Homo sapiens: one gene and its partners. The protein of the gene in region 7 interacts with the protein of the main gene of each other region in a pairwise test. Each region holds a gene or a part of one and is shown on either strand. Other genes may lie near its edges.

Region 1 (3,500 bases), on a different chromosome or scaffold from region 7:
TGAGATTACTTAATAATATGTGTTAGGTGGTAGAAATAAAGAAATCTTGTACTATTTCAAACTGCAAACTGAAGTTTTCAGTGATGGATTTTTCTTTTCTATCAAACTACAAATAGTTTAAATGTTTTCTAATACAATAAGCCTCAATTACCCAGACCACTGGGGAACGGAGAGCCACTGGTTAATTTAATTTTCTGGTTTGCTGAGGGTGAACTGAAAGCCCTCTTTATGTCTCAACCTTGTTACTGACAATCTTTAGAAAATGTGTGAGTCTATTTTTCTGCCTTAGTAGCTACAACATGGTTAATGTTATTGAATCTTCCTCTGATGATTGAAACTATTGTGATGTGTCAGGACTGATTCAAATAGAATTGAGTGTGAGCAGTTGATGCAATTTGTGCTAAGTCCCAGGCACAGTCTGAGAATTGCCTTTTTGAGTAAGTTCCTGATTTCAACTTATGCATGCATCTCAGCATCTCTTTCTGTAAAAGTTTAGTGCAAAAACAAAAACTCTGATTAAAAAGAGAGAGAGAGAGATTTTAGTGAATGAATCTAGTTGACTGATTGATGTTCATTCATTCATTCATTCATTCAAAGGCCATTTGTAAAGTCAGAGGCAGAAACCTTCCCAAGATAGCTGCAGAAAGACCCAGGCTAATATTTGTGCCTGTTCAAGGGTGGCTATTGTGGGTAGGGCCATAGCGAAGGTTGGACCAAAGACTCCAGCTGCTGGCAGGGACACTGGAATGTGGTCTAAGCCAGGTGTCCCCAGGGGACATCGCTGAGTGTAAGCTCCCCCACAGAGGTAGTGCTCCAGCCTTGTAGGGGCTTGAGAGAGGGTGCTGCTACCCAGGATCAGGATGTGCATGGTGCATAATGATCCACAGCTTAGGGGGTCTAATCAGCATGGACTCCATTCCCAGTTTTAGACCCTCAGCACTCAGAGCAAACACTCTGCTTGGCTGCTGCTTCCCTCTTCATCCTGGATCACCTTCTAGGCCCCAAGTCTCAGCTTAGACCTTGGAGAGTTCACCTGGGTCCAATACTCTCTAGTGCTGATTTCCTCGAGACATTCAAGGGTAGATGGAGTAGCAAAGAGACGGAGAGGTCTGCATAGCCTGCAAGTCCTCTGCGAAGGCAGCCCTGACTCTGTCTTTTCCCCTGGTCAGTGTGGCCTTGGAGGCAAGGACAGTGGATTGCTCCACTCACCAACCCCAGCTTCCACTTTGTTCCAGGGAACCAGCTTGGACTAACACTCTCTATCACTCATTTACTAGAGACTTTCATATGTGGTCTGGAGCATCAAGGTAGAAAAGTAAATCAATGGAAGGCTACTGAGCAGGTGTGGGGCTAGCCCCTTAGTTCTCCACTAACTAGTTGCCATCTTCCTGTTGGGACTATGACTTTTGAACCACGAGCTTAAGGTACAGAAGCCTCTTGTACAATTTTTGTCAGGCTTACTGCCCTATTAATTCAAATAATTTGTAATTTATTTGAAGTTTCTATGTATAATATATCAACTGAGATCTGAAAACAATGAAAATGGGTTTCATGCTTTAAAAGAGAAAGGAAGGAGCCCATTTTAGGAAGATTCTCATCCAGAATGAAAGAAACAGAAGGGACCAGATTTTTTAAAAACTAAAATACTGTGAAAGATTGATAAATTTAATTAAATAAGATGTGCAACCTCTGCTTGGAAAAAAATACTTTTGGCCAAGTCAAAGGACAAAGAACGGACTGGGAAAATATGACCAGACAAAAGGCTAATCTACCTTATGTGAAAAACGTCTTAGAAACTGACCAAAAAGAACAAAAACCCAAAAGAATGTGGACAAAGAATGTAAAAAGACAGATCACAGAAAGAGAAATACAAATGTTATTTCAAACATGAAAATATATTCAGCCTTACTTATACTAAGAAAAATGTATATTACAACTACACTGAGATACAATTCCTCACCTATCAGATTATGAAAACCCAAAAGTTTACCTATAGTCCCAGCTACTTGGAGGCTAAGGCAAGAGGACTGCTCGAGCCCAGGAGTTCTAGGCTACAATGTATTATGATCGCACCTGTGAACAGCCACAGCACTTCAGCCTGGGCAACACAGCAAGACCCCATCTCTAAAAAATGTTTTAAAAACCTAAAAGTTTGAAAATACCCTCTGTGCCAAAGCTATGGAGAAAGAAGTTCTCATACATTCCTCATGGAATTGCAAAATGGAATTCAATTAGTAATATTTGTCAAAATTTAAAATGCATTTATATCTGTCTCAGAAATCCTACTTCTGAGAATTCATCCCAAAGATACACTCGTACCTGATGAAGTTGTGTATGCATTATACAACATTGTTTGCAATAGCAATAAACTGGAAGCCTCTGTTTGTTGTGGTGGGTACAAATATACAAACAATGGAATGATATACAGCTGTTAAATAAAATGAGAAAGTTTCCTATATACTGAAATGAAAAGCACTCTAAGCTGCAGAACCATGCTGTCTCATGTAAAACAGAGAGGAAATTTAAAATACGTATTTTTCTTTTCTTACATTGTCATAAAGACTGAAATAAATAAAAACAGTGCAATATAAAAAACAGGTAAACAACTTGCATATGTAATTCACAAAAGAAGAAAAATTAGTGGCTAGTACACCTAAAAAAATATTGAGTGTCTATTATATGCCTGGGATTTTAGAGCTGAAAATAAGGGATATTTTGCTGCTACTATTTTAAGCTCAGACAACACATTTATACATTGACAAGGAGAGAGAAATCTAAGTCAAATATCTTTATATTTTAAGGCATATAAGAGTAAGGAGATGGGTAGAGAAGGGCAAAATATGTTTTGCTATTTTTAAAAGTAGACTTACTTTAATTGCTGAATATAGGGAATAGCCATAATGCTTCTTGAACTCTGTTCGAATGTCCAAAAGGTCAATTTCTGATCTGGACACCATTATTCGGTTCAGAGTAAACTCATCAGTTCCAATACCCTGTTAAGGAATGCAGGTGTTCACAACACAAATGTCATTGGTCACAAAGCAACATAGAGATCTATATTTATAAGAATCAGATAATGGTGTGCAAAATATTCAACTATAGTGATTCTTTTTCATTTATTATCAAACTCATCATTCATTATTCAAGAAATATTTGTTGAGCACCTACTCTGTGACAGCATCATGCTAAATGCTGCAAAGCAGAGATGAGATACCCATGTTAAGCTTCCAGTTTTGTAAAGAATACAGGCAAGAAAGTAAGCCATTGCAAAACAGTCTGACATGTTGAAAATATTGGGTACCATGGGAGCATACTTCAGGGGGGCCTAAGAAAGATTAGGGATTAGGAAAAGTCTGAGAAAGTGACATTTAAGCAAGGACTAAACAGTCAACAAGAGGAAGGAGTAGGTTCATGTAGGGAGGAGAGAAACTTCCTATAGAGGAAATAGCAGGCGTGAAGGTTTAGGGCAATAAAGAACGCCACGTTCAAGGATACGTAAG
Region 2 (3,500 bases), on a different chromosome or scaffold from region 7:
TGTCTCAAAAAACAAAACAAAACAAAATGATATAACTTTTAGAAAAATCGCAAGAGAAAATCTTGAGGATCTAGAACTAGGCAAAGACACCAAAATGGAACTTTATGAAAATGTAGCACTAGCCTAGGGTGAGTGTGGATGTATCACTATTTGTGGATGTAGAAACAGGAGTAGATGAGGGTGAGTCACTTGTCCTGCCTGCCACAGAGCGAATCAGTGGAAGGGCTAGGCTTTGGCTCACAGCCCACACACCTAGCACTGGGATGCACCGAGGTCACCACCACGCGCCTTTGTCTTCCCTGCACACCAGATGCAGCCAAACACCAAAGCCCAGGTCAGTGGCACCGGAACAACACATCAGTTTAGAGGATTTCTGATGTTATTCCACTTTGGTTATTGGCAGTAGAGATGGTTCTATCTAATGACTAAGAACTGGTATGTAGGATCATGATAACTTACAATAATGCCACCTTTTTCTCTGAAAGTCTTCATTTTCTCTGCTCTAGATGGTAAAAGCAATCCAGGTTTTGCGCATTCATCTTCTTGAGCTGGAAAAGGTTAACGAACTCTGCAAAGATTTCTGCAGTCGATACATTGCTTGTCTGAAAACAAAAATGAACAGTGAAACTCTGTTGAGTGGAGAGCCTGGAAGCCCGTACTCACCAGTGCAGTCCCAGGTACTTACATTTGGGGGTCTCGCTTTCCCTCTCTGCCACTGTGAACATCTGCATTGAGTCATGAGACCACCAGCTCTTTCAGAATTCACTGGGTCATCTTTATGACTTTCTACAAGAAGGACCCTCTAGGTCTCTGACCCCAGCCTGGTTTGGGAATGAACTCCCTCAGATTATGAAGTGAGTCCTCAATCTGCATACTGGGCCCCCGGTCCCATGTTTATGGAAGGCACAATTCCATTCATTTCTTTCTTTTATTTCTTCTGAAAATATTTTACTTATTCTTTTGAAAAATTGTGTAAAATACACATAATATAAAATTTACCATCTTAGCTATTTTAAAATTTACAGTTCAATGGTGTTAAGTTTATTCACATTGTTGGGCAACCATCAACACCATCCATCTCCAGAACTTTCTCATCTTCTCAAACTCAAACTCTGACCCCATTAAACACTCATTCCGGATTCCCCCTCCCCTAGCCCCTGGAACCCACCGTTCTACTGTCTGTCTCTGTGAATTCGATGACTCCAGGTCTCTCATGTTAAGCGGAATCGTACAGTGTTTGTCCTTCTGGATCCTTTGCTTGTTTCATTGTGCAGAATGCCTGGAGGGTTCATCCATGCGGAAGCACTATTGTGTTTTAGCCATTCTGATGATATGTAGTGATATTAATATTTCTTTGTGGTTTTAATTTTCATTTCCCTGATGGCTAATAATGTTGAACATTATTATACCCTCTGTGTATTTTCTTTGATAAAATGTCTGCTGCTTATGTCTTTTGCCTTTTTTTTTTTTTTTTTTTTGAGACAGAGTCTCGCTCCATCACCCAGGCTGGAGTGCAGTGGCGCGATCTCGGCTTACTGCAAACTCCGCCTCCTGGGTTCATGCCATTCTCCTGCCTCACCCTCCTGAGTAGCTGGGACTACAGGTGCCTGCCACCACACCCGGCTAATTTTTTGTATTTTTAGTAGAGACGGGGTTTCACCGTATTAGCCAGGATGGTCTCGATCTCCTGACCTCGTGATCCGCCCGCCTTGGCCTCCCAAAGTGCTGGGATTACAAGCATGAGCTACCACGCCTGGCCGTCTTTTGCGCATTTTTTAGTTGGATTTTTTTTTAACTTCTGAGTGTTGAGAGTTCTTTGCTTATTGTAGATACTAGTTCTCTGTTGGATATGTGGTTTGCAAGTGTTTTCTCCAAGTCTATAGTAGCTAAGTATTTTTCTCATCCTCTTAACAGGTCTTTTTCAGAGCCAGCCTTTTTAATTTTAATAAAGTTCAATTTATTAGGTTTTCCTTTTATGGATCATTCTTTTGGTGTCAAGTCTAAGAACTCTTTGCCTAACCCTAGGTCCCAAAGACTTCGTCTTAAGTTTTTTCCTAAAAGTTTTTAAATAGAGACAAGGTCTCACTATGTTGCCCAGGCTTGTCCCAAACTCCTGGGCTCAAGTGTGAACCACCATGCCTGGCCTCAAAAGTTTTATAGTTGTCCATTTTGCATTTAAATCCGTGATCCATTTTGAGTGGATTTCTCTATAGAATAACTCTCAAAGCTGGGCACATTGTTTCCTCCCACCCTGTGATTCCTTTTCAAAATTGTTTAGCTGTTCTGGTTCCTTTGCCTGTCCACATAAATTTTAGAATGCTCTTGTCTAGAGCTACAAAAACATCTTGCTTAGATTTTGATAGGAATTGTATTATACCTGTATATCAATCTGGGGAGAATTGACATCTTTACTGCATTAAGTCTTCCAGTCCACAGGTATGGCATGTCTCTCCATTGATTGACAACTCTGATTTCATTCATCAGTGCTTTGTAGTTTTTGACACATAAGTTGTGTACATGCGTTTTTAGAATTATACCCAAGCATTTCCTTTCCTGGCCTGTGCCATCTCGAATAAGAGTGGCAAGAGCAGACATCCTTGCCTTGTCACCGCCTTAGGGGACACCTTTCAGTCGCTCACTGTCGATGATGTTGGTTGCAGGTTTCTTTCTAGATGCTCTTTATCAAGTTAAGGAGGTTATCCTATATTGCTTTTTTTCTGAGAGATTTTATTTTGTTCAATTTTGTTAAATGCTTTTCCAGCATTGATTGATATGATTATGTGATTTTTCTTCTTTAGCCTGTTAATAATGGACATTACATGGATTGGTTTTTTGAATATTGAACAAGCCTTCTATTCCTGGAATAAACTCCACTTGGCCATGGCACATAATTCTTTTCATATGTATTCTTGAATTCTATTGGCTAATATTTTGTTCAGCATTTTTGTCTATATTTGTAAGGGATATTGGTGTATAGTTTTGTTTTTCATACTGTCTTTGGTTTTGGTATCAAAATACACAAACTTACATAAAATGGATTGGGAAGTATTCCCTCCTCTTATTTTTTTCTGGAGATTATGTAGACTTGGTGTTATTTCTTAAATGTTTGAGAAATAGAATTGATCTATTTCACCTAAGATGTTAAATTTAGGAGTTTAGAGTTGGTCTAGTATTCTCTTCATAGCCTTTTGGTGTTAGCAGGGTCTATAGTGATCTCTTCCTGTTTTATTTCTGATATTGATCTTTTGTGTCTCTATTTTTTTTTTAGTCAGTCTTTCTAGAGGTTTATGTAATTTTCAAAGAACAGTATTTTGTTTTATTGATTTTTTTGGTTGTTTTTCTGTTTTCAGTTTCATTGATTTCACCTTGATCTTTATTATTTCCTTTCTTCTGCTTTCGGTTCATGATGTTCCTCTTTTTCTAAGATCTTAAGGTGGAAGCTGGGATGATTGATTTGACTAGCTTAACTTTTATTACAGCCTAATTAATGTGGCAGGCTT
Region 3 (3,500 bases), on a different chromosome or scaffold from region 7:
TGGCAGCTTTACATCTCAGCATTAACAAACTGTAAGTCAACTGTTTAAATGGATGTTATTCTTAAAAGATAATGTAACAAATGAACTCATAAAGCAGTAGCAGATACATCAATATCTTCCCCACCCCAGACTGACAAATACTCCACTACAGCACAGACAGCCAAAGCAACAGCAACACAAAGTTTCACCGCACAAAGGAAAACCAGAAAAGAATCCTCCCTTCCCCATTACACTCTACTAGGTCACCCCTTTTCCATAAGGTTTGTCATGCAATTACAATTAACAATTGATCATAAGAGTAAAATGATGTTTGTGTTACTTTCTCCATCTAGAACTAAGATCTAGAAGTGTTAAAACTCTTGTTATTTTCTCCAAGAGGACATTCTTAAAGCCAGACCAAGTTCCCTTTTGCAATAGTAATCCAAACCAAAAAGCTCTGAGCATCAGGCAACTCAAGCAGCAGAACGTTAAAACAAGTCCAACTTGACTACTGATCACAAAAAATTTATATGATATTGCATTCTTGATCAAAAACTAATACAGAGGTTGCTCTAAGGTGGTGAGTAAAAAGACGCAGAGGCTTTCAAACAGGATGGTTTTATTCCTTTGTTTTTAAACGATCTTTCTACAGTAGTGGGACAGGAAGCAGCAGCAAAGAAGGGAAGGAGAAAACAGTTTAGAATATACAGCACTTCCTTTTGGGTTGAGTTTCCGGAGGCTCGAGGGCAGCTAGGATAGCCTCATCAAACACATTCTTCAGACCTCTCTACAAGACAGAGGGGAGGAGAGAGAATAGCAGCCAGGTTAGAGGATTAGAAAGACTAGCAGGTACAACAGCAGTCCGGATTAAATGAGCTGAATTCACAGAAGCAATGTGCCTTAAGAAAAACGCTAGAATGCTAGATCTTAAGCCCATTATAACCAGGAGAGTAGATAACTGACCAAAAACTTCACCTCAAGCAAGGTTAACTGAGCAGGAAAGCAATTTTTATTAAAATGCAATATGTTGACTTCTAACACATTTTGGAAATAAATCTATTACAATTTCAGGCTTATGTGAATTCAGCCCCTGAATAACTGAAGGACACAAATAGCAGACTAACAGGCATGCTATGTGTTTCTAGGTTCAATGACATATCTGAATGTGATTAATCAAGATTTCAGAGTAAACTGGTTTCCCAGAACGGAAAGGTTCAGACATTTAAAAAGTGTTAATTGTGCAACAGTACCAACTAGAAGGACTTTAAAGAACAGACTCTAAAAACAGCATACACTTCAGTTATTCAGCAATGTTATTAGAGCAAGTAACCACCACCCAAGTCATAAGAAAACAAAGAATGGGGTCCTAGAATGAGTTTTAGCAAGCAGTCCAGTGCTTTAAGATGTCTGCATGGGTATCAGAGCATAAAGCATGGAGTGAAAACGAAGAATATTCTCAGATCTTACGGGGATTAAGATACAGAAATACACTTACACCTCAGCCAGAAACTCCAACATGACAGTGTGACTCAGCATTGGTGGTACTTAGGACCCAGGTCTACAGACTCACCTAAAATCACCTAAATCTGAAGCCACAAGTTTACCACCCAAGGTTGTTTCACATGTTCTTTAGTTTGATCAGTTTGATCCCAAGTAAATATGTCCTAAAAGTCCCAGAACACAGCTCCAATTGTAAGTGCCAACCCCAGACCACCCCAAGTGTTCCCACCTCCACCCTGCCCCCATCCATGACATCCCACAGGACTGGTACCCACATGTCACATTAGACACAAAATAAATCAGAAACAGCAGTAAATTCTTTAAAAGCAGCAAAAGTTAAAAAGCCTTCCTCTTTCTACATCATTTACAAAGTAGAAATGCCACATAAAAGTTAAAATTCCACTGCAATTCTTTCTGCACATCTAGGAACCAACTCTGGCAGTAAAATATAAAAGGAAGGAAGGAGTACAGAAAGGGAAATATACTTTATAAGGAAAAAAAGAGGAGGAGGACTATTAGAAACTGGAGTGTATCCCTTAACAAGAAGGAATTCCTTTCTTGCTTACCATGGACGAAGATCAACAAATGCTCTATGAAACAAAACTAATCTTTGCTTGACCACCATCTGTTTATATTAAGACTTTAGTTTTAGAGGAATCAACAAACAGAATCTGTAAGCCTCAAAGTTCTAGCTCCCAAACACAACCACAGACCCCATTTTCTAACTTCCCCTCTTTTGACTTCTCCATACTTCAAACTCTGGTAAGAAAAATGTACCTGCTAAGACCTTTTAAACTTCATACTCTCTACAAACGGATTTACTATATACACCTGTTGATACTGTAAAAATCTTACATTAAAAGCATCCAATTATCTAAAGCATCACTAGTAACCTAAAAGTGAATCCACAGGGCCTATGTGTCTTCCCTCAAAGCAACCCATATCTAGAGAACAGAGGTATGCATCAGAAGCACACAGAATTAGTGTCTAACATGGACATGAGTGTTTCACACATGACTTTCCCTTGTCTCCCCCAATATACACACACAGGCACACTTTTCTGGGAATGTTACTAAAACACACAGAGAAGCACCAGGCATTTTTTAAAACTCTCAAAACAGTTGCTATGCATGAGAAGGTGTAAAATCTTCTAAACTTTTAAATAACTGCTTCTATAATAGCACTAAACTGCCCAAAAAAACGAGGATTAGAAGATTATGTTTAAATCATCTGATACTAGGCCTCGAAGTTATTTTGAGGGATATCCCAGTTAAGCATAAAAGTTTTATCTGTAAATATCCAACCAAGTACTAAACTTACTATTAAATTATGCACTAGGCCCTATAAACTAAATACCTAGTGCATATGTAATAAGTAATCATATATGCCATTTACCCTAGTATACACGTAGTTAAGAATCCAATAGTGTTTTTTAGAAACACAATAAAAATGAATGAATTACCTGAAAACATAAGCATAAATATAATGAGTTTAATATAATTATTAGAAACCTCCACCCTTCAATCTTGCCCTATTAGGCATGTCTGCTCAGTGTTCAAACTTCAAAGCACCAGTACCAGTAGAACATAAAACTTTTGTGCTAATTATTTCCATAACCTTTTCCTTTGCCCCCAGAACAGTACTCAAAGGACGGAATCAGCGATATCATGAAGGTGAAAAAGTTTAAACCATACACATCAGTTACAAGTCCCATTCCAAATACCCTAACATTGCTCCCTATCTTCAAAATCTGAGTTTCCCATCAAACTACAAAAGGAGTTCCAATTAAATCACTCAAAAACGGCCGGAATGCATGAGGAAGGAATACTTCCAAAAATATAGGAATAGGGACACTATATAAAGCACGCTTGAGAACTGTGGCAGAAATAGCCATGGCTGCCTTCTTTGACATTAAAGTCTCAATTATTATGACTAATTCCCTATCCTGGTTGAATTGCCCAAGAAACAGTATAGTATCAATTGTCAGAATTGGCAAGAAAAGATCAGACATATTCAGATGA
Region 4 (2,787 bases), on a different chromosome or scaffold from region 7:
GGGAAGGGGAAATAGAGTGAGAAGGAATTCTGGCAAAGACAAGGAAGGTGTCAGGTTTATTCAGGAAACAACACATGTTCCAGTTTCTCTAAGAAGTGATGATAAAGACAAGGTAGGTAAAGAAGCTGGGGAAAACAACACTGAGATTAAAGAGTGCAGGAAGGCAAAGTCCCAGACAGTGGGGGGCCATTTCTCCATATTCTGGTGGGAACCCTGTTTTGATGACTCCTTACAAAGGCAGAGATATTACTGGTTTCCAAAGTGGTAACAAGAGAGCAACAGTAATCAAGAAAGCTGGAGTCCCAGGCAAAACTGTCTAAGCAGCACTTCATGCTGAAGAGAAGCTCACAAAAGAAAAGCTCTCTTTACAGAAGCTGCATATTATGTAGAAGGTTCTGTCTATGGAAAAGTCTCCTATTCTTGTATGGTGCCATACTTCTTCAGCTAAAATCTCAGCTTTGACTCCCTATCTTGTTTGTTTCTCTTTTATAACTCCTTACTTATCAATTATTTCCTTTCAACATCTTTTGCATTTTTAAGTCCTAAGTAAATAAATAACTGGGGCTCAATCCTAGGGCCCAACCCCAAGTTTTCAGCCTTGTAGAGGAGTTACAAATCATCGTTTAGGGTAATAAGGGTAAGAAACAGAGAAAAAAGTCTAACTGCTCTGGTGGCCACCTACGTCTCTATAATTTGACTCATCTGAGAAGACCTCTAAAATTAGATTACTTACTTGACAACTTTGATTCGGAACCGTAAATCTCCAGGCTCCCCATCCACGTGAGGCTCACCTAGTCAGAGCAGATTACAGCATATTGTAAATCATACAAGTTGAATACCACAAATCTATTTGGCAACTGATACATTTTTTTAATCCACTACTTTGGGCATTGACCTGTCAAATCTGTGACGGCAGTGTCTCTGCCTGGTTGTATCAAGTTTCAGATTATTAGAAATCATCACCTTTGCCTCAGATACAGCAGTACATAACTTGACCCATTTCCTAAACAAAGAATGATACACTGGTCTCCTGAACCTAAGTCTTAAAGCTTTTTTTATTTTTAGAGTTTTAAACTTAAGTCTAAAGGTGAGGTCCTGAGAGCATCTTATTAATGCCAACTAGAGTTACATATCTTCTTTCATTGCTGAATTAAAACTCATTAAGGTCTGAACACCCTAAATTTTGATGAAACTTAGGCTACCTCATAATAACTTTTGGCCATGACATTCAAAGGATAAACGGTAATGCTACTGCTTCAGGTAAACAAAAGGCTTTGTATATCCTAAAATTGGCCGAAGAGTGTTGGAAATTATATATGCGTTTACTATGTGAACATTAAGATGGAGTAAGGCAGGGGTGAAAGGTATTCACAAACAAGCAGAGAGCAAAAAGTTATCACAATCAAAAAATCAAATATCAATATTTCACCTTCTCCAATAAAGGGGTACTCCATGCCGTCTCTCACCCCAGGCTCTATTTCTACTTCCAGCGTTCGTTCTTCATTCACTAGTCTGAGGTAAAGAGAATTAAAAGAGGAGAAAAATAATGAAAATATAAACAAAACATCAGATATAGATAAAGTTATACCTATTTTATCAGAGCTTTTTCTTGGAAGACTGTAGTGTGCCTCTACTTGACAAAACTATCTGATAATCATTTACATCTTCTATATGCTAAAATCCAGGGTGAAGCTACTATACATTTATAAACATATAAGGCTGCTCTAATAGTACAAGAAGGAAGAAAATGAAGCATTAATACTTGTTGAAAATGTATCAGAAATAAAGGGCACTGCTTGTTAGTTCAGAAACATAAAAGGAGATATTTACAAATACTTCAGAAAAAAATGTACATTGTTTTGCTCTATCCTTTTGCAGAACATGGCAGTGGGGAGGGGACAGAGAAAGATCTAGTATGGACCATTAGTGTTTGACTAGATGAACGAAATTAACAAGTGTTTCTTGGTAGAACAAAGAAGGTGCTTTCACTTACTTGACATTAGGGCATTCGTCGCAGACCACCTCCTGGGTCATTTGGAAGCGCCCAGGGCCCAGCTGGGTGGTCCGCATCTCTTGCCGACAATTGCACTTCCGTTTGCCAGGAGCCTGCCTTGCCACAGGTTTGTTTCTAACTACCTAGGAAGTGCATAAACAACATCAGCTTCTCTCTTGTGTAAAACAGCCTTTCCTTTCCTCAATTGATCAAGGCTCTGCACATATGCCTGGACTGAAACTTCCCCTTCTCTGGCAATCTATCCCTCAGAGATCTAAAGCTGACAAAACTCTTTGAAGAGTACAAATCAGCCCCCAAACAGGAATGAAGCAAACACATACTTAAATGACTCAAATTCTAAAGCTGGAGAAGTAGAGACGGGAGTAAGAAACAAGAGAACCGAAAAATAAAGTGTATGATATCAGCATTTCTAAGCCACAACTAAATGCTACTGAGTTAAAGTACTTCATGTAATGATTATCTTTTAGGAAATCCGAGCTGTGTAAAGCATAACCCCTGAGGAACAATCACTACCTTCAAAACCTGGTATGTGGCTACTATCCAATCCTCTGGTTAACCTACTGAAAATGTCTCCTTATTTCAGGAAATGCAATCCAGGACTATTTTCTGGAGCTATCTCCATTCAGATACTTTAACATGTAGGAAGAGAAACAATGACCATCTCTTTGTAGTTGACTGCAATCAAACATTCTGATCCCTCTAAGAATGTAAAATTGATATATATGCAGAAATGTATTCCTAGTTTTGCCTGTTTAAATAGTCAAACATCTAAT
Region 5 (3,500 bases), on a different chromosome or scaffold from region 7:
AGACACAGGTGAGAAGGGGGAAAAAAAGAAGAAAGGTGAGGGTGTGCCGGCCATCAAGGGCTTGTTCTGTGACTCTCAGTGCCTTCCTTAACCTCTGTGAGCTTTGGTCTCCTCTGGAAAATGGTGCTCATATTTCCTGTTTGTCCCCCTGCCTATCGACACCACAAGGAGGCTTATCTCAGCCCTGGGATGTGCCCCATGGGGCCACTACAATTGCTATCCTCATTGAACTGGACACAGGCAGCCTCTACCCCAAATCTTGCTGAGTTGAAGATAGGGGTTAAGAGGAGAAGCCAAGCCACTGGCCTGCTTTGAGCCCTAGCTCTGCCATTCCCATGCTGTGTGACCTTGATCAAGTGGCTTAACCTCTCTGAACTTCGGTTTCCCCATGTGTACAACAGAGACCTTTAGTGATGATTCTCTGAGACAACTCCTCCCTCCTTTTCCAGGAAGCCCTCCCTGCTGTCAAGTCAAGTCGGGGAGGACATGGGGCTTACTTCTTGTAGAGCAGGATAGCAATGACAATGCAGATTATGAAGACCACGGCCAGCACAGGCCCGATCACCCAGATAAGCCCCTCCTCGCCATCCACGATGGGCTGGGGGTCCGGGTTATCCAGCTGGAAGGGGTCTGAGAAGGGACTGGCTGCAAAGGTCTGCAGGGAAAGGAGGGGGGTCTCCATCAGTGTCCACCCTCCTTGTAGTGGCCAGATGGGTCTTTCTCAAACATGAACCTACGTTTCTCCCCCGCTCTAGATCCTCCTATATTCCTAGAACCTTGACCCTGGTGGCCTATGTGACCTGGTCCCTGCCAATCTTTGCTCTCCCCATTCCCTTCTCTGCTCCAGCCACTCTCCTTTCTGTACCTCCAGACCTTTGCACATGCAAATCCTGGGATGCTTTTTCTTTGTTGAACTCCTACTCACCCCTCAACGCCCCAGCTCCAAGGTCTCTTCCTCTAAGAAACCTTCGTTTCAGGATCCCTCCGCTCCCAAGTCTTCCCCTCTGCCCAGCTCTGACCACAGGGAGCTGCCTGTGACTGACCACAGAGGTCAGGGCCCTGGGGAATGGGGTCTGCCTCATTCAGAGGTGTGTCTGGATGTGGGCGGACACCATTCAGGACTTACAGGCTCGCTCTTCTGAAGCACGGCAAGCACGAAGAGGACATAGCGGTGGCCGGGCTCCAGGCCCCGGTTATCGAAGCCGCCATACTGCTTCTGGTCGCCGGGATGGAACGTGGGTGGCAGCACAGAGAAGCGAGCTGCAATATAGGGCCGGGGCACCTCCAGCTGACGCGAGTGCCGCAGGCTGCGCCTCTGTAGCCGTGAGATGTCCTGGATGAGCTGCGGGAACAGAGTCATGGGTGGCTCAGAGCTCAGCTGGGAGCAACAGAGCACGTGAAAACTGGAATGCATCTGGGCCCTGCGGGTTGGGCCCCAGGCCCTCACCTCTTCCAGATCCATGTCCTCTGGGCTACCCAGCGGGGTCAGGAATTGGCCTCCACGAGACTTGCGCAGTGGCACCATCACAATGAAATAGCTCCTGTAGGGAGATGGGAAAGAGTCAGAGGGGCTGTCGATAGGGATGACCAAGGGATGCTTCATGGGGGCAAACGGGGGAAGCCGTTTCTCTGAGTCTTCCCTTCTGTTCATACAATGAGCCTATTCCCCTATGCCCCATCCACAAACGCCACAGTTGCTGACTCAGGCCTCCAGGCCTTGGATGATGCTGTACTTTCTGCGTAGAAGGCTTACTTCATGTAATGCTCATTGTTAAACTCCTATACATCCTTCAAAGCTCCAGCTTCAATGCCCACATAACCTTGTAGCCCTTAAATCTTCTCTGCCTCTGAGGCAGAGTGCTCCTCTCCCCACTGGGGACTCTCAGCTTTGCCTCCCCACTAGTTGGGAAGCCCAGAACCAAATCCTTTCAGGGGCCCTAGTAATACCCAGTGGAGGGTCAGGCATATGGGGTATCAGGAAATGCTAGAAGAGCAGACACAGGACACATTTAGTGACAATGACCCATGAGAAGCATTGAATCTTGGATGACCCCATGAACTAGGGCTGATAGGGTCTGTGTTTCATAGGCAAGGAAATTGAGGCACAGAGAGGGCACGTGGCTTGCCCCAGCCATATAGTAGGCTGATGGGGGTGACAAGGAACCCGGAGCATGGGGGTGAGCATACTGGACAGGCACGGGGCTCTGGCCGTCAGGAAGATACACCATGATGAAGCCGTCAGCATCAGGCTTGGGGGCGACGCTGGGCTTGCCGTTGAGCAGGTTGAAGGCAGTCCAGGCGGTGACCGTCTGCTGGAGGCCGCCCAGGCTGCTGCCGCGATTGGTCAGCACAAAGTTGTAGAAGGTGTGGGGCTTGAGGTGCGTGATGAGCTTCTTGGTGGTACGGCCATCCACATCCAGTGTGAGCCCATTGTACTGGATCTGCGGACCAGGGCTAGCTCAGCAGGGCCTGGTGGGCTCATGCCCATGGACTGAGCCCCAGCTCCAGGATGAGTCCCCCACCCTGACTGAGCCCTGATCCCACTGAATCCTGCCCTAGGCAGAAATCTAACACTGACTGATCCCTGATCCCAGGCTGAGTCCCCAACTCTGACTGAGCCCCAACCTCACTGAACCCTGACCCCAGACTGTGCCTAAATTCCAGCTGAGTCCTGATCCTAGGTAGAAGCCCACTTTGACTGAGCCCTGATCCCATGCTGAATTCCCAGTCCCGACTGAGCCCCAATCCCACTGAACCCTGAACCCAGACTGATCCTGAATTCCAGCTGAGCGCTGACCCTAGGTGGAAACCCACCTCTGAGACCTGATCCTAGACTGATTCCTGATCTCAGACTGAACCTCAATCCCAGGCTGACCCCCGATCCCAGACTTGGCACCAACTCCAGACTAAACTCTGACCTCAGGCTAAGTACCAACTCTGAGTCCCAATCCTGATTATGCCTCAGTCCCAGCTAAGCCATGATCTAAGGCTGAGCCCCAACTCTGATTTCCAATATGGACTAAATCTTAATCCCAGACTGAACCTCAATCCCAGCTAAGCCACAATCCAAGGCTGAGCCCAACATTGATCCCCAATATTGACTGAACCTCAGTTCCAGCTGATCTCCAATCCTAGGCTGGGCCCCAAGTCTGATTCCCAGTATTGACTAAGCCTCAATCCTAGCTGAGACCCATCTCTGACTGAGCCCTGATCCCTCACTTCACACCAACTCCAAACTGAGCCTTAAGCCCTGCTGAACTACAACCCCTGACCCTGCCTGCCTGCCTGCCTGCTGGCTGGGCAGTCGCACCTTGTAGGGTGTGGGTGAGTTGTAGTTGTCAGGGAACTCCCAGCTGAGCAGAACTGATGTCTTCATGATCATTTTCACCTTGAAGTTCTTGGGCGAGACTGCCGGGGAGGCGGCCGAGCAGGGAGAGAGCAGAAGAGAGGCCCCATGAGTGCCTGGCACTGGGTGGCGTGAAGCGGGGTGGGGTGGGGCG
Region 6 (3,500 bases), on a different chromosome or scaffold from region 7:
GAAAAAATTCAGAGTATTAATGTAAATGTAAAAATAATTTTTAGGCCAGGCGTGGTGGCTCACACCTGTAATCCCAGCACTTTGGGAGGCTGAGGCAGGCGGATCACAAGGTCAGGAGATTGAGAACATCCTGGCTAACATGGTGAAACCCTGTCTCTACTAAAAATACAAAAATTAGCTGGGTGTGGTGGTGTGCACCTGTAATCCCAGCTACTCGGGAGGCCGAGGCAGGAGAATTGCTTGAATCCGGGAGGCGGAGGTTGCAGTGAGCCAAGATTGCACCACTGCCCTCCAGCCTGGCGACAGAGCAAGACTTCAACTAAAAAGAAAAAAAAATAATAATAATAATAATAATTTTTGGCTGGGCACGGTGGCTCACACCTGCAATCCCAGCACTTTGGGAGGCCAAGGCAGGTGGATCACCTGAGGTCAGGAGTTCGAGACCAGCCTCAACATGGAGAAACCCCGTCTCTACTAAAAATGCAAAATTAGCTGGGCGTGGTGGTGCATGCCTGTAGTCCCAGCTACTCAGGAGGCTGAGGCAGGAGAATTGCTTGAACCTGTCAGGCAGAGGTTGCAGTGAGCCGAGATCGCGCCATTGCACTCCAGCCTGGGCAACAAGAGCGAAACTCCGTTTCAAAATAAATAAATAAATAATAATAATAATAATTTTTAAATAGCATAGTTTCATCATAATGATCAAGTGAAGGTGCAAAAAAACATGGGAGGAAACCTCCCCACCCCTACAAATTGGCAGGTGATGGTGGGGATTAACCAATAAAAAAAAGCCCATAGGAGAAAACAGTTATTGTCAACCTTCTTCCTAACCCATACCACCCCTGAGGTTCCATATTCCTTTGGAATAGTTCCCTAGGTATAAAGGAGCTCCCGGACTCCTTTCTAATGCCACTTACAAAAAAAGTAAGAGGTGGTCACAAAATTTAAATGGCACTAACTAGAAGTATGGTGTGGTGGCCACGTATTCCTTTTTTTTTTTTTTTTTTTGAGACAGAGTCTTGCTCTGTCGCCCAGGCTGGAGTGCGGTGGTGCGATCTCGGCTCACTGCAACCTCCACCCGGGGAGGGTTCAAGCAATTCTCCTGTCTCAGCCTCCCTAGTAGCTGGGATTACAGGCGCACGCTACCACGCCTGGCTAATTTTTGTATTTTTAGTAGAGATGGGGTTTGGCCATGTTGGCCAGGCTGGTCTCGAACTCCTGACCTCAGGTGATCCACCTGCCTCAGCCTCCCAAAGTGTTGGGATTACAAGTGTAAGCCACCGCACCTGGGTGGCCATGTATTCCTAATCAAAAGTCTAGACACATGATTTGACAAATGGGAGTATATGTAAAGGGCCAATGGGCAGTGTTTAAACTGTCCTTCTCTTAACAGTCTTGGCTAAATACATGTTATACGTGGCTCTCGCACTGAAAACAGGAGGGTGATTCTCAAGGGGACCTCCACGTCACAGCTGAGGAAATACACTTCCCTAGGAACTGAGGAAAGAATGCCCAGTGCTTATACAAATTCCCCTGTTCCAAACTACACAATAGTAACCAACATAAAGTTACAACATAAAGGAGACATCTTCAGAATAGACAACAGATTAGAATGAAGTAATTACTTACCAGAGTTTTAAGAATAATCTTAACTGGCAGATAATGTCTGGATGTATCAATCAAAATTCCTCTGTGAGAAAACCTTGGAGAATCAATAATGGTGGATTCATTGATGGTGAACTATGACAAAATAAAATTTTGATTTAGTTTTAGAATTTTCTGTTGTCTTGAACTCAATGAAGACTAAATCTATTTATACAAGCATTTCATAAAATATTAATTTAGAACAACAAAAATGTATGAAATTTACATTTACCGGCTAAGACAAATATCTGGGGAAATGAAATCTTCAGGAAGCAATAGCTAAACAGGTTACATTTTTTTCTATTAGCAATTTGTCTAACAATTTTTAGTAACATATAATAATCATACTTACAGTTCCATAAGAATCTTGATAAACTAACTGGCTAAAGGTCTCTAAACCTGAGGAAAGTAAAATTTATTGCATTAATTTATAAATCAACAAATTGAGATGATAAAAGTTATATTATTCAAACAGACTCATAACCAGGTAAGGCAAATATAATTGAATATAGTGTTATACCTCTATCCTCTAAAATATATTGTTATACCTACACCCTCTACCATAATTTCTAAAATCAAAGCCAAATTAAAAAAAAATCCATTGCACTTCTCTACTCATCTAATAAAAGTGCTTTACTTCATTGTACCCATACCCTGGGGGTTGTTTCAATATAGACAAAAGAAGAATAGTAATTTAATAAAATACTGGTTCCTTAATAAATTTATGGCATCATGAGAAAGAATTTTTATAATCAAATATAGTCACTTTTAGAAGGTATCTAAATGCAACAGGGAAAAATGGCTGGAAAAACCATGAAACTATAAATAAAGGCCAATTTACAATATACAGCATTTTACTTATAGCTGCAAAGACTACCTTCTGAACATTTTTTACTCAAGTGGATTATTCCCTTAATATACTAGTTGACAGGCTAATTCTTCTAACTGGCCTTGACTTTATTCAGATTCCTCATTCTAGCTGACAGCTATATAGCCAGGGAATTTTTAACCTAAGAACAGTTCAGTCATCTTTGCTACGCCTTCCTGTCTCTCCAACCTCGTCAAGTACAGGTTCATGCTGGGAAGAATAACTCTGAAAGTTTCTGTTAAGTGACATTACGTTCAATAATGATCAGTTTAGAGTACATTACTCTGAAAGTCTGATGGTAAACAGAAAATATGGACTTCTTGGACTAGAAATCTAGTCACTGCATACTCGCAAGAGTGGTTTTATCTTTTTTTTTTTTTTTTTAGACGGAGTCTTGCTCTGTCACCCAGGACGGAGTGCAGTGGCGCGATCTCGGCTCATTGTAACCTCCACCTCCCGGGTTCAAGTACTTCTCCTGCCTCAGCCTCCCAAGTAGCTGGGACTACAAGCGTGCACCACCATGCCCGGCTAATTTTTGTATTTTTAGTAGAGATGGGATTTCACTGTGTTGACCAGGCTGGTCTCCAACTCCTGACCTCAAGTGATCCACCCACCTCGGCCTCCCAAAGTGCTGGGATTACAGGCGTGAGCCACCGTGCCCAGCCTTGCTAGAGTTCTTTATTTTGGTATGGATCAGAACAAACATCAATAAGCGTCTCTTGGCTGGGCGCAGTGGCTCACGCCTGTAATCCCAGCACTTTGGGAGGCCAAGGCAGGTGGATCACGAGGTCAGGAGATCGAGACCATCCTGGCTAACACAGTGAAACCCTGTCTCTACTAAAAATACAAAAAATTAGCCAGGCGTGGTGGCAGGCGCCTGTAGTACCAGCTACTCGGGAGGCTGAGGCAGGAGAATGGCATGAACCCATGAGGCGGAGCTTGCAGTGAGCTGAGATTTCACCACTGCACTCCAGCCTGGGCAACAGAGCAA
Region 7 (3,500 bases):
AAGCTGATTGAGCTCGAGTTTATGTAACTATTCTTGTCCAATCTGTTCTTTTAACAATCTCTTATGGCCTGGCTTTTTGTGCTTTTTTTTTTTTTTTCTGTAATGGCAACCTTACTGGTGTAATTAGTAGTCCAAATATATTTGGATAGTTCTTATGCTTATGTACTAAGCAGCTAAAGAGGGAATATTACAGGATGGTTAAAAGTACAGACTCTGGAGATGAAATGCTTGTCATGGATCTCTGAATCTGTCACTTGCTAACTTTCTGATTGGGGGACAAATTAACTTCTGTCTTATTTTTCTTTTTATCATCTGTAAAATGTGGTATACCTTCTTCATAGGGTCATTGTAAAGGTTAAATGAGGAAGACAGTGCTTCCTGACTTTTTTCACATGGCACATATAGAAAATGATGAATTTTTACAGGTGGGTAAAAGAATGAGCTACAAGGAAATCCTACATAGACCTTGCATGACCGCCTCCAGGACTGGTGGAATCAGTAGTCCAGCTATACTTCCCGCTCGTTAATGGGCCACAAGTATATCATAGGATACATGTTGAAGAGCTGTGAATTCATTCATGAAAAATATTTTAAATACATAGCAGAAGTTTAGAAAGCCTGAGTCATTGTTTCATATAAGTAGAGAGGACACTGCAGTAACTAAAGAACTGCCATTCCTGCCAGGCAAGAAACTCAGCATCTTAAACTATAGACTGTCTGTCCTAGAGGTATTAAAGTTTTCATACTTCATAAAGGTGTTAAACATTTGCATCTGTCTTTCAGATATTGTTCCGGTATCTTACAACTTTTAGTCAACACGCGATTAGAGCTCAGTTAAGAGCTCATTAAGTCTTTGGGCTACATATTGCTTATTGATTGTGGTTATCATTTCACTACCTAATTCTCACTTTTGTCTATAATTAGGGTCGTCGGGCTGTTAAAGCGGGAGCTTATGCTGCTTGCCAGGAAGCAAAGGAAGATATAAAGGTAACTTTCTGAATTAGGGGGAAAAAGAGAAGTTAAAGATGAATGTACATTACAAGAGCCCAAGTAGAATAATTTGAGTGATGATGTCGTTGAAGTGGTTTGGGGCACCTAGATGCAGAGATTTGGAACTGGCAGGGTTATGTGATTTCTTCATTTGAAGTATAAATCCCTTAACTAAAAGCAAATTTTAAATGCTATTTTTTTGGTTCGTTCCCTTCATTTGTAGAGTCATTCAGAAAATGTCTCTCAACATCCACTTCATGTAGAAGTATTACACTCAGAGATTATGGCTCATCAGAAATTTGCTTTGCGTCTTGGTTCCTGGATGAACAAAATTATGAGCTATTCAAGTAAGCATACCTCCTGTTTTTCTTGTTTCTGATAAAATACTATGTGTTTTATAGCCACAAATTTTAAAATGTCATTGAGTATGAAATAAAGTTTTTCTTTTTTTTTTTTTTTTGGTTTATACACTTTGATTAATTTTCAGGGTTGCATTTCAAATGTATAATATCTTAGGATATTATTTCAAGTGCATAGTATCAAATAATATCTTTTTATTGGCTGTTGAGTCTTTGATGTTGACAGAATTATTCTTTGCCTCAAATGTGGGAGGATTAATATTATTCTTTTCACATGTTATAGGAAATGTACTTTTAGGAGAAATGTTATAAGAATAAAAATTATGGCTGAGTACAGGGGCTCATGTCTGTAATGCCAGCACTGTGAGAGGCTGAGGTGGAAGGATCGCTTGAGCCCAGGAGTTCAAGACCAACCTGGGCAACAGAGTGAGACTCATCTCTATTTAAAAAGAAAAAGAATACAAGTTGTGTAACTGTGTGACCTCTTTTGTTTGTAGGTGACTTTAGGCAGATCTTTTGCCAAGCATGCCTTAGAGAAGAACCTGACTCGGAGAATCCCTGTCTCATAAGCAGGTTAATGCTTTGGGATGCAAAGCTTTATAAAGGTAAGTAGACATTTGCTTATGCTGTTTGTCAGGAAGCAAAGGAAGATTATGACCTTAAAGTGGAGCTGTAATATCTTTTGTTTATTAAATTAGTTATTAAATCTGTAATCTTGATTGATAAGATACTACATGTGAATATAAAGTTTAACCAGTCAGTATGTATTCTTTGGTGTTAAAACCCAGGGATGTTGTCTTTTAATTATAGAGTCTTTTCATTTAGTGAGAGCCAGTCAAAAAGAGTATATATGTATGTGTCTATACATGTATCTATATATTCAGGTAGTAGTGCCATTATCGAGTAGCGAAAAAGATGCTATTTTCATTGTAAAAATCTAAATGAAGAACAAAACGTAAAAGGCTAAAAGCATGGAGAAGGAAAAGTACAGTGAAATAGAAAAAGAATGAAAAGGTTGGGAGAGAGTAAATTGAAGTGTAAGATGAAGTGGTGGGAGGGGTGCAGAAAAAGAGGGAAAAGGCAATATATGTGTGTATTTTAAATTCCAGTTATTAAATATTAATACAATAAATACTATTTGAGGTCTGTTTGCATGTGAAGTAATTTTATAATATTCTGCCACTCTAATAGCCAGAATGTTTTTGGTTTTTGCCTTGGTGATTCTCCTCATTCCCCCACCCTCCCCAAAATAATCTATAGGTGCCCGTAAGATCCTTCATGAATTGATCTTCAGCAGTTTTTTTATGGAGATGGAATACAAAAAACTCTTTGCTATGGAATTTGTGAAGGTAATTATTTATAAATTAGATATCAATAAATAGAAATAGGCAGTTTTTATAAATGAATTAATAGAAACAGGGATAATTATGAATCAAAAATTAAATGTTATGATTTATTTCTTTGTCAAAAGTTTGTTCTTGGCCCTGCGGGTTGGCTCACGCCTGTAATCCCAGCACTTTGGGAGGCTGAGGTGGGTGGATCATTTGAAGTCAGGAGCTCGAGACCAGCCTGGCCAACACGGTGAAACCCCGTCTCTACTACAAATACAAAAATTAGCCAGGCATGGTGGCAGGTGCCTGTAGTCCCAGCTACTCAGGAGGCTGAGGCAGGAAAATCACTTGAACCTGAGAGGCAGAGGTTGCAGTGAGCCAAGATCGCGCCACTGCCCTCTAGTCTGGGCAACAGAGTGAGACTCCCATCTCAAAAAAAAAAAAAAAGTTCGTTCTCATACGTTATATAAATATTTTCACAAATGTTATTTGCTAGTATAGAAACAGCATTCTTAGAGAAGAGATAGGTGGAAAATGACCCACTGACCCAGAGCAAAGGGAGGTTATCACATTCACATATGCATTCAGTCTTCCTAATCATTTATTTGCCTGTTAGTAAAATTACAATAAGAATAGAAGTGACTAATTGAAAAGTATAGCAGGAAAGAAGAACAGATGTGTATGCTAAAGTGGGGGGCAGGAATTAGGTGGCCAAGAGTTCTACTTAGTTTTTGGAAGCTAAAGCATAAGGCTAAAATTTACAGCTTTTTAATGTTTTATTAATCTATCGTGTATCTCTTACCTTACTGTATCTTTTTGT

Evidence for each region.
Region 1: the proteins of UBR1 (region 7) and ANXA3 interact in a two-hybrid assay, tested with the Homo sapiens proteins (one large-scale study listed by BioGRID and IntAct).
Region 2: the proteins of UBR1 (region 7) and PKNOX1 interact in a protein complementation assay, tested with the Homo sapiens proteins (one study listed by BioGRID).
Region 3: the proteins of UBR1 (region 7) and CDC42 interact in a two-hybrid assay, tested with the Homo sapiens proteins (one large-scale study listed by BioGRID and IntAct).
Region 4: the proteins of UBR1 (region 7) and DNAJB11 interact in a two-hybrid assay, tested with the Homo sapiens proteins (2 studies listed by BioGRID and IntAct).
Region 5: the proteins of UBR1 (region 7) and PTPRS interact in a two-hybrid assay, tested with the Homo sapiens proteins (one large-scale study listed by BioGRID and IntAct).
Region 6: the proteins of UBR1 (region 7) and HEXB interact in binary tests that used the Homo sapiens proteins (3 or more experiments, as listed by UniProt).

The regions. Positions count from the first base shown.
Region 1 is NC_000004.12:78,603,770-78,607,269, reverse strand, and holds part of ANXA3 (annexin A3), read right to left. Parts: intron 2,994-3,500; coding exon 2,871-2,993; intron 1-2,870. UniProt on the Homo sapiens protein: Inhibitor of phospholipase A2, also possesses anti-coagulant properties. Also cleaves the cyclic bond of inositol 1,2-cyclic phosphate to form inositol 1-phosphate.
Region 2 is NC_000021.9:43,012,562-43,016,061, forward strand, and holds part of PKNOX1 (homeobox protein PKNOX1), read left to right. Parts: intron 1-506; coding exon 507-677; intron 678-3,500. UniProt on the Homo sapiens protein: Activates transcription in the presence of PBX1A and HOXA1.
Region 3 is NC_000001.11:22,087,209-22,090,708, reverse strand, and holds part of CDC42 (cell division control protein 42 homolog isoform 1 precursor), read right to left. Parts: intron 767-3,500; coding exon of another isoform or gene 677-766; exon of another isoform or gene 1-676. UniProt on the Homo sapiens protein: Plasma membrane-associated small GTPase which cycles between an active GTP-bound and an inactive GDP-bound state. In active state binds to a variety of effector proteins to regulate cellular responses. Involved in epithelial cell polarization processes.
Region 4 is NC_000003.12:186,580,720-186,583,506, reverse strand, and holds part of DNAJB11 (dnaJ homolog subfamily B member 11 isoform 1 precursor), read right to left. Parts: intron 2,137-2,787; coding exon 1,994-2,136; intron 1,513-1,993; coding exon 1,430-1,512; intron 792-1,429; coding exon 734-791; intron 1-733. UniProt on the Homo sapiens protein: As a co-chaperone for HSPA5 it is required for proper folding, trafficking or degradation of proteins.
Region 5 is NC_000019.10:5,218,813-5,222,312, forward strand, and holds part of PTPRS (receptor-type tyrosine-protein phosphatase S isoform 1 precursor), read right to left. Parts: intron 3,409-3,500; coding exon 3,311-3,408; intron 2,442-3,310; coding exon 2,188-2,441; intron 1,542-2,187; coding exon 1,448-1,541; intron 1,343-1,447; coding exon 1,127-1,342; intron 656-1,126; coding exon 498-655; intron 1-497. UniProt on the Homo sapiens protein: Cell surface receptor that binds to glycosaminoglycans, including chondroitin sulfate proteoglycans and heparan sulfate proteoglycan.
Region 6 is NC_000005.10:74,695,233-74,698,732, reverse strand, and holds part of HEXB (beta-hexosaminidase subunit beta isoform 1 preproprotein), read right to left. Parts: intron 2,041-3,500; coding exon 1,994-2,040; intron 1,738-1,993; coding exon 1,627-1,737; intron 1-1,626. UniProt on the Homo sapiens protein: Hydrolyzes the non-reducing end N-acetyl-D-hexosamine and/or sulfated N-acetyl-D-hexosamine of glycoconjugates, such as the oligosaccharide moieties from proteins and neutral glycolipids, or from certain mucopolysaccharides.
Region 7 is NC_000015.10:43,057,539-43,061,038, reverse strand, and holds part of UBR1 (E3 ubiquitin-protein ligase UBR1), read left to right. Parts: intron 1-924; coding exon 925-987; intron 988-1,213; coding exon 1,214-1,337; intron 1,338-1,846; coding exon 1,847-1,954; intron 1,955-2,609; coding exon 2,610-2,698; intron 2,699-3,500. UniProt on the Homo sapiens protein: E3 ubiquitin-protein ligase which is a component of the N-end rule pathway. Recognizes and binds proteins bearing specific N-terminal residues that are destabilizing according to the N-end rule, leading to their ubiquitination and subsequent degradation.